Homo sapiens: one gene and its partner. The protein of the gene in region 2 purifies or fractionates together with the protein of the main gene of each other region. This does not show direct contact. Each region holds a gene or a part of one and is shown on either strand. Other genes may lie near its edges.

The links.
Region 1: the proteins of CTAGE6 (region 2) and MIA3 purify together in Homo sapiens (affinity purification with mass spectrometry; 2 studies listed by BioGRID and IntAct, with this or other methods). This does not show direct contact.

Annotation. Positions count from the first base shown.
Region 1 is NC_000001.11:222,662,302-222,669,030, reverse strand, and holds the end of MIA3 (transport and Golgi organization protein 1 homolog isoform 1 precursor), read right to left. Parts: coding exon 6,699-6,729; intron 6,574-6,698; coding exon of another isoform or gene 6,502-6,573; intron 5,034-6,501; coding exon 4,883-5,033; intron 3,723-4,882; coding exon 3,412-3,722; 3' UTR 1,024-3,411; downstream 1-1,023.
Region 2 is NC_000007.14:143,753,703-143,762,538, reverse strand, and holds CTAGE6 (cTAGE family member 6), read left to right. Parts: upstream 1-4,842; 5' UTR 4,843-4,880; coding exon 4,881-7,214; 3' UTR 7,215-7,450; downstream 7,451-8,836.

The DNA of each region.
Region 1 (6,729 bases), on a different chromosome or scaffold from region 2:
TGTTTTTCTGACAACTGATTGTGAAACCTTAAAACCTGCATACCTCTTCTTACAGTGAGGAGTATGCAAAATCTGGAAAGATATTCTATTTTTTTTATATAGGTAGATAGGATCGCCATTTATTTCCTATTTAGATATACTGACATTCATCCATATGAAAATATGCAGGTCATTAGCTTACTATAATTTACTTTTGACTTAATGGGGCATAAATAAAACTTTCATAGTACACATGAGGTGGATATTTGATACACAGAACATTTGCGGTGGGCTTTCTGTGGGTTAGATGTAAAGCCCACATATTTTAATATTCACTATTTTAAATGAGCAATGCATGAGGGGAATGCAGTGTCAGTACCTGGCCTATTTTTAAACTAGTGTAATCACCCTAGTCATACCATTCAGTATGTTTGCTTTTTAAAATAAGTAACCACAACTAAGTTGTTGTAGCCCTTGCACTTCAAGAGATCTAGTCTTTACTTTCAGTTGTCTGTTAGGTCCATTCTGTTTACTAGACGGATGTTAATAAAAACTATGCGAGCCTGAATGAATTCTCAGCCAAATTTAGTCTTGTCTCTCATCTTGATTGGATTAATTCCAAATTCTAAAATGATTCAGTCCACAATAGCTCTAGGGGATGAAGAATTTGCCTTACTTTGCCCAGTTCCTAAGACTGTGAGTTGTCAAATCCCTAGACTGTAAGCTCTTCAAGGAGCAAGAGGCGCATTTTCTCCGTGTCATGTAATTTTTCTAAGGTGCTTGGCAGCACTCTGTACCCTGTGGAGTACTCAGTACCTTTTGTTTGATGTTGCTGACAAGACCTGAAAAAAAATCCCTTAAAAAAAAAACCCATTAAAGTGTAGCAAAACCGATGTATTATTTTTTCTCTTTTCTCATAAACCATAAGATATGTATATCAAAATGATAATTTATATGAAGCATCTGCTATCCTTCACATAAGTATAGTTTATATGAACTACAAATACCTTTCATCAACATTAAAGAAGCTTAAATTGAACACTGTGTGATTAACTTAACTTTAATTCAGACCTGAATATAACGAGAAAATGAGTGATTATCTTGAAGTTGACACAGAATATACCACATCCCACGAATTACTTAAATTTACTTTCCAATGAAAAAAATCAGCCATTGGCGATATAACTACAACAACTATGGCAGAAATGCTTTCAGGCTGAATATTGCTGCTTCATAAATAAGACAATTTTAGCAACTAAATCCAGACACAATTAGTTGGAGATGACTTCCAAAATAGATGAAACTTTAGAGATGGAAAAGTGATTTGGCTGAGGGATGATACTCCCTATGCCATCTGCATATTGGCACCCTGCTTTGGGGTTTGCTGCAGAAATGGTGCAATCAGATGGATGTGAGGAAGCAGTTATGGACTGGCTCACAACTTCTCAGAGAAGCTACACTGGAATCTTTACAGCTTACCAGTTTCTCAATTATGTCAGATACAGAATAATCACCAAAAAAGGCTTTAGAGGGGAAAAATACTCTAATATTTTGAATTTTAAAAATAGATTTAATTTACCTTTCCTACTTACCTTCCTAGATGGCATAATCTACACTTAAATGACATTTAAAATTAGAAATTATATTAACTTCAGCATTGTTTTGTGTCCTAAAGAGATATTGACAGGTAAATTCAAAAGTTGTATTTGTGACTTAATCTTATTTTTACATGGCTAAAAGTGGCCTATGCTCTTCTGTGGAGTTTTCCTCTTAATTTCTTCTATTCTTGATATTAAACGGGAGGACATATAGATTGAATTCTCTTTTCCTGAAGAATTTTTATATTCCTTATGAACTTTGACAGAGTTGTCTTCTTTCAAAGGTCCTTATCTTTCTAAACTATCTATCTTCAGTTGTTTAGTATAAAGAGAGAAAATTGTTTCACATTGAAGCTTTTGCTCCTTTTTACAAGGTATTCTTAATCGATTAAATATCACAACAGTGACAAGACATACACTAGGTTTCAAAAATATTACATCATAGGACTTCAAAGAATGGAAGAATATAGCCTAGCAGCAAACAAAAGTATCAGCCTTTTATGATTTTAGTTTTAGTGTGGATCTGAAACTCCTTAAAAGGAGTGCTATTATTACTGTAATTAAAATGTCTGAAGTTCGTTCTTAGAAACGTTGTAGAGTATTTAAAGAAACATTGTTTTAAAGACAGTGTAGTAATGGATAAGACTTTAAGTATGGTGCAATTCCAGATGGTTAGTTACTGATTTTTAAATAAAAACACCAACGTTTAAATATTAATTAATATTAATTTTGGAATAATATCTGTCGCCCCCATTTCCCCCTAAAACAGAACTGATTTCAACCCTTGGTTGCTGACCTAGGGCATGTTATAACCCTCACAGTCCTAAATCATTCTTTCTCATGGCATTATACTCTTCCAATCTTTTTATTATATTCCTCAAAAATCAGTGGCAAGGAATGGGAAAGATAGATAAGGGACTGTACATTTTAAAATTTTTAAAGATTTCTATACTTTTATGGCCATGACACATCATTTTCATTTTTCTGTTGTGCACCCTTTTTCTACAGGAATGGTAAAAACAATGGAACATCAGGTCAAACAACTCTTGCTACTAATGTAAACTCACTCTCAGAAAACCATTCTCAAATAGACAATGAGGATCGTAAAGAAAGCATGTGAATGCTATACAAGTGGGAAATAAACTTCTTTGAAATAAAAAGACGTCACTTGTAGAGTTCACAGGTGACGGAGGAGCAGCCGGAAGTGTGCCACCAGCCACCATCTTCAGTTCTGGGAGCCTGAGTTTACATGTTCCCCAAATGGCACAAGCCTCATAACAGTCCAATGAGTCAACAGACACTTGGGAAATATTAATAAACAAATTTTTATGAGCTATTACTACAAAGAACTTCAGCAAGAGGGGAGATAGTTTAGTGATCTTTTAGTAAACATTTTTAGCGTAACAGTCTTTGTGACCAGATAGTTTAAAAAAACGCTTATAAACACCATTGCTCCGTATTCAGCTGGTGTACACTAAAAATAGGATAATGGAAATACATGTTCTTAAAGCATTTCCACAGGAAATGTTCATATTTTTCATGACATTCTAAATCATTTTGCAATTACATATGCTACATTAGCTAAAACACAGGTATTCTTTATTGCACATTTCAAAGTTGTAAGGACGCTCTAGCTTAAAAGGTGATTTTTATTTAGGGAAGAAATGACATTTTTGAATTGTTTGGCTCAAAAATGCACACTGCCAAGGCAGCTTAGTTCTAACAACAAACCTTTTAAAATAAACTTTTGGATTTTGAAGCCAATGAAATCCTTTACTGTAATGGATAATGCACAGTACACTTTCTTTCCAATGAAACCTCAGAGGTCATAGTTTTATGGGCTCTGTTTTAAAGCCTGTGAACAGTCCTGGCTAGTGCTCTGAGAGGCAGGTGGAGGCTCATCTCTAGAGCCTGACGGCAGTAAGTCTCTTACAGCAGGTGGTGGTGGGTATTCCTGGGGACCATGGGTTGGGGGTGGTAATCGGGTACCAGGAATAAAGTACTCTCTTGGGCCAAGTGAACCTAAAGGTCTAAATGGTGCGTGTCCAGGTAAAAATCCCCGAGGGTGGAGAGGCAGGTCCCGTCTTCCTGGTGGAACGCCTGGTGCAAATTCTCTTAAGCCTAGTGGTGGACGCATACCAGGGCCTGGAAAACAAAAATTATTTCCAGTAAATTCCTAGGAACGTATTTAAATTAAGATAATGCCAGGTATGTTAATATAGTCTGTCATCCTTTTTTTTTTTTTTTTTTTTTTTTGGCGGCAGGGTCTTGCCTGTCACATGGGCTGGAGTGTAATGAGTGATCATGGCTCACTGCAGCCTCAATCTCCCGGACTCAATCAATCCTCCCACCTCAGACTCCCCAGTAGCTGGGACTACAGGTGCACGCCACCACTCCCAGCTAATTTTTGGATTTTTTGTAGAGATGGGGGTTTCACCATGTTGCCCAGGCTGGTCTCAAACTCCTAGGCTCAAGGGATCCACCTGCCTCAGCCTCGTCTAATGAATGCTGGGATTCATAAAGTGCTGGGATTACAGGCGTGAGCCACTGTGCCTGGCCTGCCATCTTTATCTGAAAAAGAGAGATAGATTTGTACTTGGAAGTACTATATACCATACCAAGAAGACAGACTAAATATGGCTTCATTGCAATAAAAATTTTGATAAATTCCATTAACTACTGTGTATCAGTTAAAAATTTATGCAGTAGCTCAAGATGTACCTAATAAATGCCATAAAAATTAAGGTGCTTGCCCTGCTGGAAAAGGCTTTCCAGCTCCATCTAATTAAATTCAGCAGCATTCATTAGATAGCTGTTAAATTCTACCTTCTCTTTCATATCTCCCTTCTTTGTATTCCCAAGGTGAGGGTTGAGGGTTTTGTCTTTCCTTAATATTCTGTGACCTACTGCTTATGCTTCCATTATGGGTGATTAGAAGCTTTATGTTGTAGAATGTGTATATTTGTGACCTACAGGACATCTTAGTTAGGGGATGTATTTTATCTACCTTGCTATCCATTGCAGAGCCTAGTACACAGCCACAGATGTTCAATGTGATGAATATTTCTGGCTTTTTATAAATAGCCCCTTTCCTTGTTCTATTAGAGACAACTATTGCCCATCTAATCACAGGAGATTATGTAGCACCCTTTGTGTCTGAAGAAACTTGGGGAAAAGTTACGGTGTACTCAATCAGCTTCACTGCTGCATTGCAAAGCCCCGCAATTGCAGTTGTTTTAGCAAGGGATAGATGGAGAAGATGAATGTGCTTTACAAGTCAATTACTACTGTTCAGATCATCTTACCAAAGGGTGGAGGAAGTGGCCGAGGCCCAAAAGGTCCGCAGAGCTGAGGTGGTGGTCCATATCGAATGGGTGGTGGTACAGGGCCTCCCATGGGGGTGCTCATGAGAGGGACTCCTGGGAAAGGAGGGGGCCCTTTTGGAGCCATATTAACCTGCAGAGTAGAAACAATTGAAGTTTTGAAATACTATGGTATGACAGACAAAAGCACCAACACCAGTAAAAACTAAAACCCAATGAAGCAGATGTCAGGCACTTGTCCAAAGAGCAGAATTAGTGCAAAAAACTCTACCCCTCTCATTTGTTCCCACTGACAAGCTTAGAAAGGTTAAAAGTATGCCACAGGAGTGAACACTTGCTGTATCATATTATTGCTTACATCTGCAAATGGAAGGGAACGCACAGGTTATAAATGGAGGTCATTCCTGACTAATGATAGAAGTTACGCCATTCATACATCTATTTCTAAGGCAGTCACTCCCTCTGCACATCCCTCCTATCAGAGTAATTTCCATATTAAGAATGCAGAGAATGAAAGGGAATGAAAAATCCATTCTCTACCATGTAACAGCGATTATTCAGAGTACCTTCTGTAGGCCCTACATATATTAACACAAATTCTGACATCTCTAAATCTGTAATAGGACCATCTTGTTCTAAATATGCAGGAACACAGGCGCAGAGAGTATTAGATTTGCTGATGGTCACACAGCATGTAAGAGGCTGGCTGGAATTCCATGCCAGGTTTGACTCCAAGGCCACGTTCTTTCCACCTCTGCTTCTCCTTTCTAACAAAGTAGTCTCTACACTCTTCGAAGTCTCCTACTTCAAAGGGGTCTCGGGTCTTATCCAAGCTGCTCTTGGATAAAAACATTTCTCAAGAAATGTGTATTCCTGGAGTCCTGTGCTGGAACTTGGAAGTATTTTCCAAGAGAAACAATGTTATGTACACAAATTATACAGGCACAGCTCTATTCATCTTCATTCACTAGTAATACTGTCTACTATGAGATACTGATTAATCACTTCCTATGGGAAAGTGGGTTGGAAACTCTCAATCATTAAAATTATTTTAATTTCAATGTCGAGAATCACAGTGAGGTATGATCAGAGGACTTACCAGCCATAACAGCTATACAAGTTACAAGAGAATACACTTATGTGGACACTGTTTAAGGACACTGCTGGGAACTGGCTCAACGGGTAATTATAGACTTCCACTATTCAGTATTTCACTTCCAGCAAACATTCTTCTGTTATCAATCTGTAATTTCAGATCATTCAAAATAGGGTTTGCCTAGTATACAACTGTAGGTATTCTTAAATAGCACACTTCCAAATGAAGACATAATAATGAATTACACAATTTACAATGAATTTACTTTGCCTAAGAGCATTAAACACTGAGACACACAAGAGTGGGGACTTTTCACTTTTGTTTAAGTTAATTACAGTTACAGCAGATGCTCTACACAGGTTAAATGTCTAACCAAACAGGAGAGAGGAGAAAAGGCCAATGAATCCGTCAGATTTCAGCAACACTCCCAAGTCAAGGATAAAAGTAAGATCAATATTGCCATGCAACTTATAGCCCAGTTCAGTCCACACTTCTAAGTACTTACTGCTACTGGACGCTCAGCCAAAGATGTAATGCTGGGAACTGAGGGGACTTCAGGCTCTTGGAGAACAGTTTGCTTTTTTAAAAAATAAATGAGATAGTACAGATAGAACACACAAATAGGAGATGAGGCAAAGAGAGAGTTGTAGGAAGAGCTAAATGTTCCTGAAATAACTAATTATTCAAAATGGGTGCATTTACCTTGCCTTCATCGAGTACCCTGGTAGGGGAA
Region 2 (8,836 bases):
GTGAATTTATATATATATTTTTTCACTTTAAGCATATCTTGGGCTCTTGCAATTAGGAAAAGAATAGCTATGATGCTATGTTCTCTCAGTTAAGGGCACTGGTTCTGGAATTCAATGATCTGTTTCACATTCTTGCTCTACCACTTATTCGTTTTTCATTTTGAAATTTAGTTTTCTTCACGTGTCGCTGAAGATTAATTATGAGTATGTGGCTTAGTAATGCGCATTCATCATGGACTTGCAGTGACACTGATCCTTCAGCACAGAATATCCTGGCACACGTTCCTGACCAAAAAGCAGCCATTTGTGGGGCACAAGCCAATATTTATTGCATATTCTTGCCTTGGTCTATCTTTCTGATACTAACACCAAATTTTCTAGGATAGAAGACTTCTAACTCTCAGGAAGTAGTTTGTTTCTCAAAGAGAAAACATGGGGTGTTCAGTTGGCTGTGTGGCTGCTCCCATCTGTAGAGGTGAAGTGGATGTACGTAGTCTTCTATGCTGACAGAATAATTCAAAAGAATGCTTTGAAGGTAAATATATAAATCAGTACACTCCCCCAACTCAATACCTTCATGAAATGTATCTTCATGAAGTCTGCCTATTACATTAAAGCTTTTTTTTTCTTTGACAGAGTTTCGCTCTTGTTGCCCAGGCTGGAGTGCAATGGTGCGATCCTGGCTCACTGCAGCCTCTGCCTCCTGGGTTGAAGCGATTCTCCTGTCTCAGCCTCCTGAGTAGCTGGGATTACAGGTACCTGCCACCACATCTGGCTAATTTTGAATTTTTAGTAGAGACGGGGTTTCTCCAATTTGGTAAGGCTGATCTCGAACTCCAGACCTCAGGTAATCTGTCTGCCTTGCCCTCCCAAAGTGCTGGGATTACAGGTGTGAGTCACCATGCCCGGCCTACATTAAAGTTTTAATTTCCAGGAAGACACTCCGACTTGAAGCAGAGTGATATAGTTTGGATACGTCCCCACCAAATCTAATGTTAAATTATAATCCCCAATGTTGGAAGTAGGGCCTAATGGTAGGTGTTTGGGTCATGGAGGTGGATTGCTCATGGCTTGGTGCTATCCTCACCATAGTAAGTGAGTTCTCAGAGATCTGGTCATTTATAAATGTGTGTAGCACTTCCCCCTGACTCTCTCTTTCTTGCTTTTGCTCTGCCTTGTGAGATGTCTGTCTGCTCCCACTTTGACTTCTGCCATGAGTAAAACCTTCCTGAGGCCTCATCAGAGGCTGAGGAGATGCTCCCTGTACAGTTTGCAGAACCATAAGCCAATTCAACTTCTTTTCATTGTAAATTACCAGTATCAGGTATTTCCTTCTTCCTTTCTTTTCTTTGTTTTTGTGGGCGGAGTGGGGAGGTGGGACAAGGTGCTGATTTTAAAAGATAAACAGGAGTTTTCCTGTTATAGAAAGAAGGCAAAACCATTTCAGGAAACCCTGTTATAGAAAGAAGGCAAAACCATTTCAGGAAACCCTGTTATAGAAAGAGGGCAAAACCATTTCAGGAAGAAAGAGTAGTATTTGTAAATGCACAGAAATATGAACTGTGGTGAAATGTTCTGAAAACGATCATCAGTTTGGAATTGCGGGAGAAGGGGTGCAAAGATGGGAACCTGGAACTTGAGGCAGGAGGTGAAGGCAGACCCAGATGATGAGAAGGTTGGCAACAGGAATTTACTGAAGGATTCTACCTGAAGGCAACAGGAATTTACTGAAAGGTTTTAAGCTGAAATTTATGGTTAATTTGGCAGTATTCTGGGAGACAGCTCAGTTGGGATTGTGGCTAGAGGTAGGGAAACTAGTGAGGAGGCTTCTGGAACAGTCCAGGTGAGAGGTGCTGAGGACTTGAACTTTGACCGTGGGGATAAGAATGGAGGCTGAGGAGTTAGGGAGGTGTTTGCCTGGTGTGGACTCAAGTCTCAGACTGCAGAGCAATGGACGTCCACACAGAAGGCAGTGAAGAGAGTCTATTTCCAGGGGCTTTGAAATGAGCTTGAATGTCAGACTTCTGGCTGACACTATGACTGTCTCATGCAGACCTTCAGACAGATTACTTACTAATAAGGAAAATGGTATAGTCTGAAAGTAATCTCAGGCTCTTTGGAATTATGAAGACAGGGCAAAAGTCAAGAGATGGTATGTTTTTGTGCCAAAGACATGGAGGTCTAATGCTGAACCTGAGTTTCAGGTCTGCCCTTTCTAATCAATTATAAGGTGAACTTCAAACTGTTTATGTCTTTTAACCTCAAGGTTCTGCATCTGCCAAATGGGGGACCGGATAATACTTCCTCCAATCTATTTCACAGCTAGCAAGAAAATACTTGTAAGCCATACTTCACATTCCTGACCAAGTCTCTTCCCTCATGAAATAAAATCATTAAGAAATTTTTAGTAATATTTTAATTATCATATTTTAATTAAAAATTTAAGTATAGAAAGAAGACTGTATAGCTCTACATTAAAAACACATTAGTACATGACTTGGCTACTTGACACCAAAGTAGCTGGTGTCACATTCACCCTCCCACGATAAAAAACTATACAATCTGGACAAAATATAGAAAAAAAATTCTTGGCAGTTGTATTAGTCTGTTCTCATGCTGCTAATAAAGACATACCCAAGACTAGGGAATTTATAAAAGAAAGAGGTTTAGTGGACTCACAGTTCCACATGGCTGGGGAGAACTCACAATCATGATAGAAGGCAAAGGAAAAGCAAAGGCACATCTTACATGGCAGACAAGAGAGAGGGCATGTGCTGGGGAGCTCCCCTTTGTAAAACCATCAGATCTCATGAGACTTATTCACTATCACAAGAACAGCATGGGAAAGACCCACCCCCATGACTCAATTACCTCTCACCAGGTCCTCAGCATGGTTCAGGTGGGCAAGGCTACACGTGGGAATTATGGGAGCTACAATTCAAGATGGGATCTGGGTAAGGACACAGCCAAACCATATCAGCAGGCATTGAAGAACATTGTTGTACCAAGTCAGGTATGAGATCTTTAAGGAAGGTGAGACACATGAGGTTAGTACCACATTTGCCAGGGTTTTCCAGAAAGGCATCTTCCTGACCTTGGTACAGGAAAATGGGACCCAACCAGAGGTTAGTGGTCTTGGTAACCAAAAGAAGCAAAAAATAGAGTTCAAAGCTAATAAGCTGGTTGGGAATTGGGGGTTAATGTACCATATGGGAGAGAGAAAGAACCCTGGAAATGGGTGTGTAAATGCCATTTTGGTCCTTCCGTGACTCTTTAGCTGTGTGACAGTTGGCTAAGAAGAGGAGAGACCTAGTAGAAAGCAACTGCTGGGAAAGCAGAAGAGATCATCAGGGACTGAAAATTTCCTGGAAACCTACTGGGTTTCAGATCCAGCCAGATGGGGAAATGTTGGTAAACAACTGAGAAACCCAGTTGGGACCCTAAAGATTCTGTCTAAGGAGAGGTACAGTATCCTAGGAGTAAGGCATATGTCCTAAGAGGAAAATAAAATATCATTACCATAGCACAGCTTAAAACTAGGTCTTGAGAGCAGCAAGGTGATCTGCAGGTAATATAACATCTGTCCAGAAAAAAATTCAAAATTTTTGGGCATTTCTATATCATATTATCCAGAAACTCAGCATACTTTTAAAAAGTTACCACATACACAAAAAAGCAAGAAATACAGACTCATAAAAAATAAATCAATTATTAAAAACAAATTCACAGATAATCCAGATATTGGAGTTAATAGATAGGGCATCATAATATCTATGATCAATATAAAGGAAAGAAAGAAAAAATGAAAGACAAAGCAGGTCGTGTCCTATTTCCTTCTGGCAGCTCTAAAATGCTCACTTTATTTATTGGCATAGATTTCGATTTCCTAAATTATGTTTGATGTTTCAAGCAAAAATCATAGCATTGTCTGGTGTTAATCTAAATGGATGTAAGACAATGATACTATAAATTTGAGAGGGTAAAGAGACATAAAATGACACAGGGTTGCTATACTACACTCAAACTGGAATACAGATGACACCAATTGACTGTGATAATGTATGTATAAAGGAATATCTAGAACAACCACTAAGCTATAAAAAGCAACCAGAAAACTATAAAAAAGAAGATACATCATAAACACTATGAATAACAAAATGGAATTCTAAAATAAATGTTCAAATAACCCACAGAAAGTCATGAAAAACAAGCAGAGACACAAGAGTTGATAGAGAAAACAAAAACTGTCAGGCTTATGCACTAAAGTATCAATAATTCATTTAATTATGAATGGTCTACCAAGAGACAGATAATAGAAGAGTGTATGTAAAAGTATGACCCTTTCTTATATGTTTCTTGCATGCTGTGTACAAGAAACTCACTTGAAATTTACCAATACAGGGCAGGCCAAATTAACAGGATGAAAAAAGATATATTACACAAACATTAATGAAAGGAAAGCAAGAGTGCCTGTATGTATATCAGATAAAGCAAAGAAAATTACCAGAAACAGATTATATAATGATCAAAGGTTTAATTCATGAAGAAGACAGCAATTTTAAAAGTGTATTCACCAAAAAATAAAGCTTCAAAATATGTGATGTGAAAACTGCCAGAACTAAGGCGGGCCGGGCTCAGACCAGCGCTGCCTCAGGATGTGAAGTGTAACAAGAGGGCCAGGGGAGGTGGTGGGGGACAACATGGGCCTGTGAGGCCTGTGGGTGCCCGCGTTCCCCAGCTCCCCCCGCAGCCCGCTCCACAGTGGTCCGCTCCGGTTGGTTGTCACGTGCGCATTCGGGTTCCAGACCCAAGGCTGCGTGTTCTCCACCGCTTGTTGTGGCCAGTGTTACTGCGGTGACCGCCAGAGCAGCCTCGACGCTATGGAGGAGCCTGGTGCTACCCCTCAGCCCTACCTGGGGCTGGTCCTGGAGGAGCTACGCAGAGTTGTGGCAGCACTACCTGAGAGTATGAGACCAGATGAGAATCCTTATGGTTTTCCATCGGAACTGGTGGTATGTGCAGCTGTTATTGGATTTTTTGTTGTTCTCCTTTTTTTGTGGAGAAGTTTTAGATCGGTTAGGAGTCGGCTTTACGTGGGAAGAGAGCAAAAACTTGGTGCAACGCTTTCTGGACTAATTGAAGAAAAATGTAAACTACTTGAAAAGTTTAGCCTTATTCAAAAAGAGTATGAAGGCTATGAAGTAGAGTCATCTTTAGAGGATGCCAGCTTTGAGAAGGCGGCAGCAGAAGAAGCACGAAGTTTGGAGGCAACCTGTGAAAAGCTGAACAGGTCCAATTCTGAACTTGAGGATGAAATCCTCTGTCTAGAAAAAGACTTAAAAGAAGAGAAATCTAAACATTCTCAACAAGATGAATTGATGGCGGATATTTCAAAAAGTATACAGTCTCTAGAAGATGAGTCAAAATCCCTCAAATCACAAATAGCTGAAGCCAAAATCATCTGCAAGACATTTAAAATGAGTGAAGAACGACGGGCTATAGCAATAAAAGATGCTTTGAATGAAAATTCTCAACTTCAGACAAGCCATAAACAGCTTTTTCAGCAAGAAGCTGAAGTATGGAAAGGAGAAGTGAGTGAACTTAATAAACAGAAAATAACATTTGAAGACTCCAAAGTACACGCAGAACAAGTTCTGAATGATAAAGAAAATCACATCAAGACCCTGACTGGACACTTGCCAATGATGAAAGATCAGGCTGCTGTGCTTGAAGAAGACACAACGGATGATGATAACCTGGAATTAGAAGTGAACAGTCAATGGGAAAATGGTGCTAACTTAGATGATCCTCTGAAAGGAGCTTTGAAGAAACTGATTCATGCTGCTAAGTTAAATGTTTCTTTAAAAAGCTTAGAAGGAGAAAGAAACCACATTATTATTCAGTTATCTGAAGTGGACAAAACAAAGGAAGAGCTTACAGAGCATATTAAAAATCTTCAGACTCAACAAGAATCTTTGCAATCAGAAAACATATATTTTGAAAGTGAGAATCAGAAGCTTCAACAGAAACTTAAAATAATGACTGAATTCTATCAAGAAGATGAAATGAAACTCTATAGGAAATTAACAGTGGAGGAAAATTACCGAATAGAGGAAGAAGAGAAGCTTTCTAAAGTGGAAGAAAAGCTCAGCCGTGCCACTGAACAGCTGGAGACCTATAGAAAGCTAGCCAAAGATCTTGAAGAAGAATTGGAGAGAACTGTTCATTTTTATCAAAAGCAGGTTATTTCCTACGAGAAAAGAGGACATGATAATTGGTTGGCAGCTCGGACTGCTGAAAGAAACCTCAGTGATTTAAGGAAAGAAAATGCTCACAACAAACAAAAATTAACTGAAACAGAGTTGAAATTTGAACTTTTAGAAAAAGATCCTAATGCACTTGATGTTTCAAATACAGCATTTGGCAGAGAGCATGCCCCGAATGGTCCCGCACCATTGGGTCAGCGTTCATCTGAAACGAGAGCTTTTCTCTCTCCTCAAACTTTGTTGGAGGATCCACTGGGACTCTCACCTGTGCTTCCGGAGGGAGGAGGAAGAGGCCCAAGAGGCCCAGGGAATCCCCTGGACCATCAGATTACCAATGAAAGAGGAGAACCAAGCTGTGACAGGTTAACCGATCCTCACAGGGCTCCTTCTGACACTGGGTCCCTGTCATCTCCGGTGGAACAGGACTGTAAGATGATGTTTCCTCCACCAGGACAATCATATCCTGATTCAGCTCTTCCTCCTCAAAGGGAAGACAGATTTTATTCTAATTCTGAAAGACTGTCTGGATCAGCAGAACCCAGAAGTTTTAAAATGACTTCTTTGGATAAAATGGATGGGTCAATGCCTTCAGAAATGGAATCCAGTAGAAATGATGCCAAAGATGATCTTGGTAATTTAAATGTGCCTGATTCATCTCTCCCTGCTGAAAATGAAGCAACTGGCCCTGGCTTTATTCCTCCACCTCTTGCTCCAGTCAGAGGACCATTGTTTCCAGTGGATACAAGGGGCCCGTTCATGAGAAGAGGACCTCCTTTCCCCCCACCTCCTCCAGGAACCATGTTTGGAGCTTCTCGAGGTTATTTTCCACCAAGGGATTTCCCAGGTCCACCACATGCTCCATTTGCAATGAGAAACATCTACCCACCGAGGGGTTTACCTCCTTACTTTCACCCGAGACCTGGATTTTACCCCAACCCCGCATTCTGAAGGTAGAAGCGAGTTCCCTTCAGGATTGATTCCGCCTTTAATGCTACTGAACATCCAGGACCACAAAAGAAACCTGACAATATTGTTGCTTTCTTCAAAAGTAATTTTGACTGATCTCATTTTCAGTTTAAGTAACTGCTATTACTTAAGTGATTGCACTTTTGCTCAAATTGAAGTTTAATGGAATTATAATTCTCAGGATAGTATTTTGTAAATAAAGATGTTTTAAATAGGAATCTTATGAGTAAATCATTCCATTTTATTATTCTAGATCATATAACTATTTTAATTTGGTGAATTAATCCACTGTTATAGAAACAATAATGGGAGTTTTATATATGTAATCTTGCAGGTGGGGAGGCTTTAAATTCTAAAGGTTGTGGTGTCTTCATGCCAAGAACTGTATTCACTGTGGTTGTAGATAAATGTGAAAGTAACTTTATGCTTAATTTAATAAACTTTAGTTGATTTTTTTTTTAAAAAGAAAACTGCCAGAACTGAAAGTAGGTATAGATGAATCCACAATTATAGTTGGAAATTTTCTCTTGCGTTTTTCAATAATGGATAGAACTAGACAGAAAATCAGCAAGGAGTGTTGGCTTTGGCAGCACTTTCTAAAATTAGAATGACACAGACAAGATTAACACGTCTCCTGCATATAGATTACACAAAATTTTGTGAAGCGTTTCATATTTTAAAAGGGGGGAAAAAAAAAGAAAATCAACAAGAATATAAAACAACTCAAAATGCCATTAACCAAAAGAATCTATTTGGCATTTACAGAATATTCCACACAACAACAGCAGAATACACATTTTTTTTGAGTGCTGACGAAACACATGGCAAGATAGAGCTATCCTAGGCCCTAAAACTCACCAGAACAAATTTAAAAGAGATCGTAATCATCCAGAGCAGGTGAAAACCAGAAACCATTGTAGGGAATCCAATTGGAAATCAGCATAAGAAAGATATGAAAATTCCCAAACACTTGGAAATTAAAAAAACACACTTCTAACTAATCTATCGGTCAAAGAAGAAGTCTCAAGGAAAAATTTTAAAAATACATTGAACTGGATAAACATGAAACTGTGACATATCAATGTACTGAGAAGGAAACTTATAGCAGTAAATGCATGCATTAGTAAAGAGGAAAAGTCTCGAGTGAGCAATAGATTTCCACCTCAGGAACCTAGAAAAAGAAGAGCAGAATAAACTCAAAGCAAGTAGAGGGTGGAGATTAATGAAGATAAGAAAAGAAAACACTTATATTTAAAAGAGAAAAAATAGTTAAACCAATAAAACAAAGGGATAGTTCTGTTAAAAGATTAATAAAATTTAGCAAACTCAAACAGAAATTAAAAGGAAAAGAAAAGGCATAAATTTTAAATACCATAATGAAACAGGTGATATCACTACAGACACCACATATAACAAAGGACAATCAAGGAATATTACAAACCACTCCACACACATAAATTAGACAACTTAGACAAAATGGACAAAATGCAGTGTTCCTCCTGCAACACAAGCAAACTCAACTCACCACGCATGAATAGATCATTTGAATAACTCTATAACCATTAAGAAAATTGAATTCATAATTTTAAAACTACCAGAAAAGG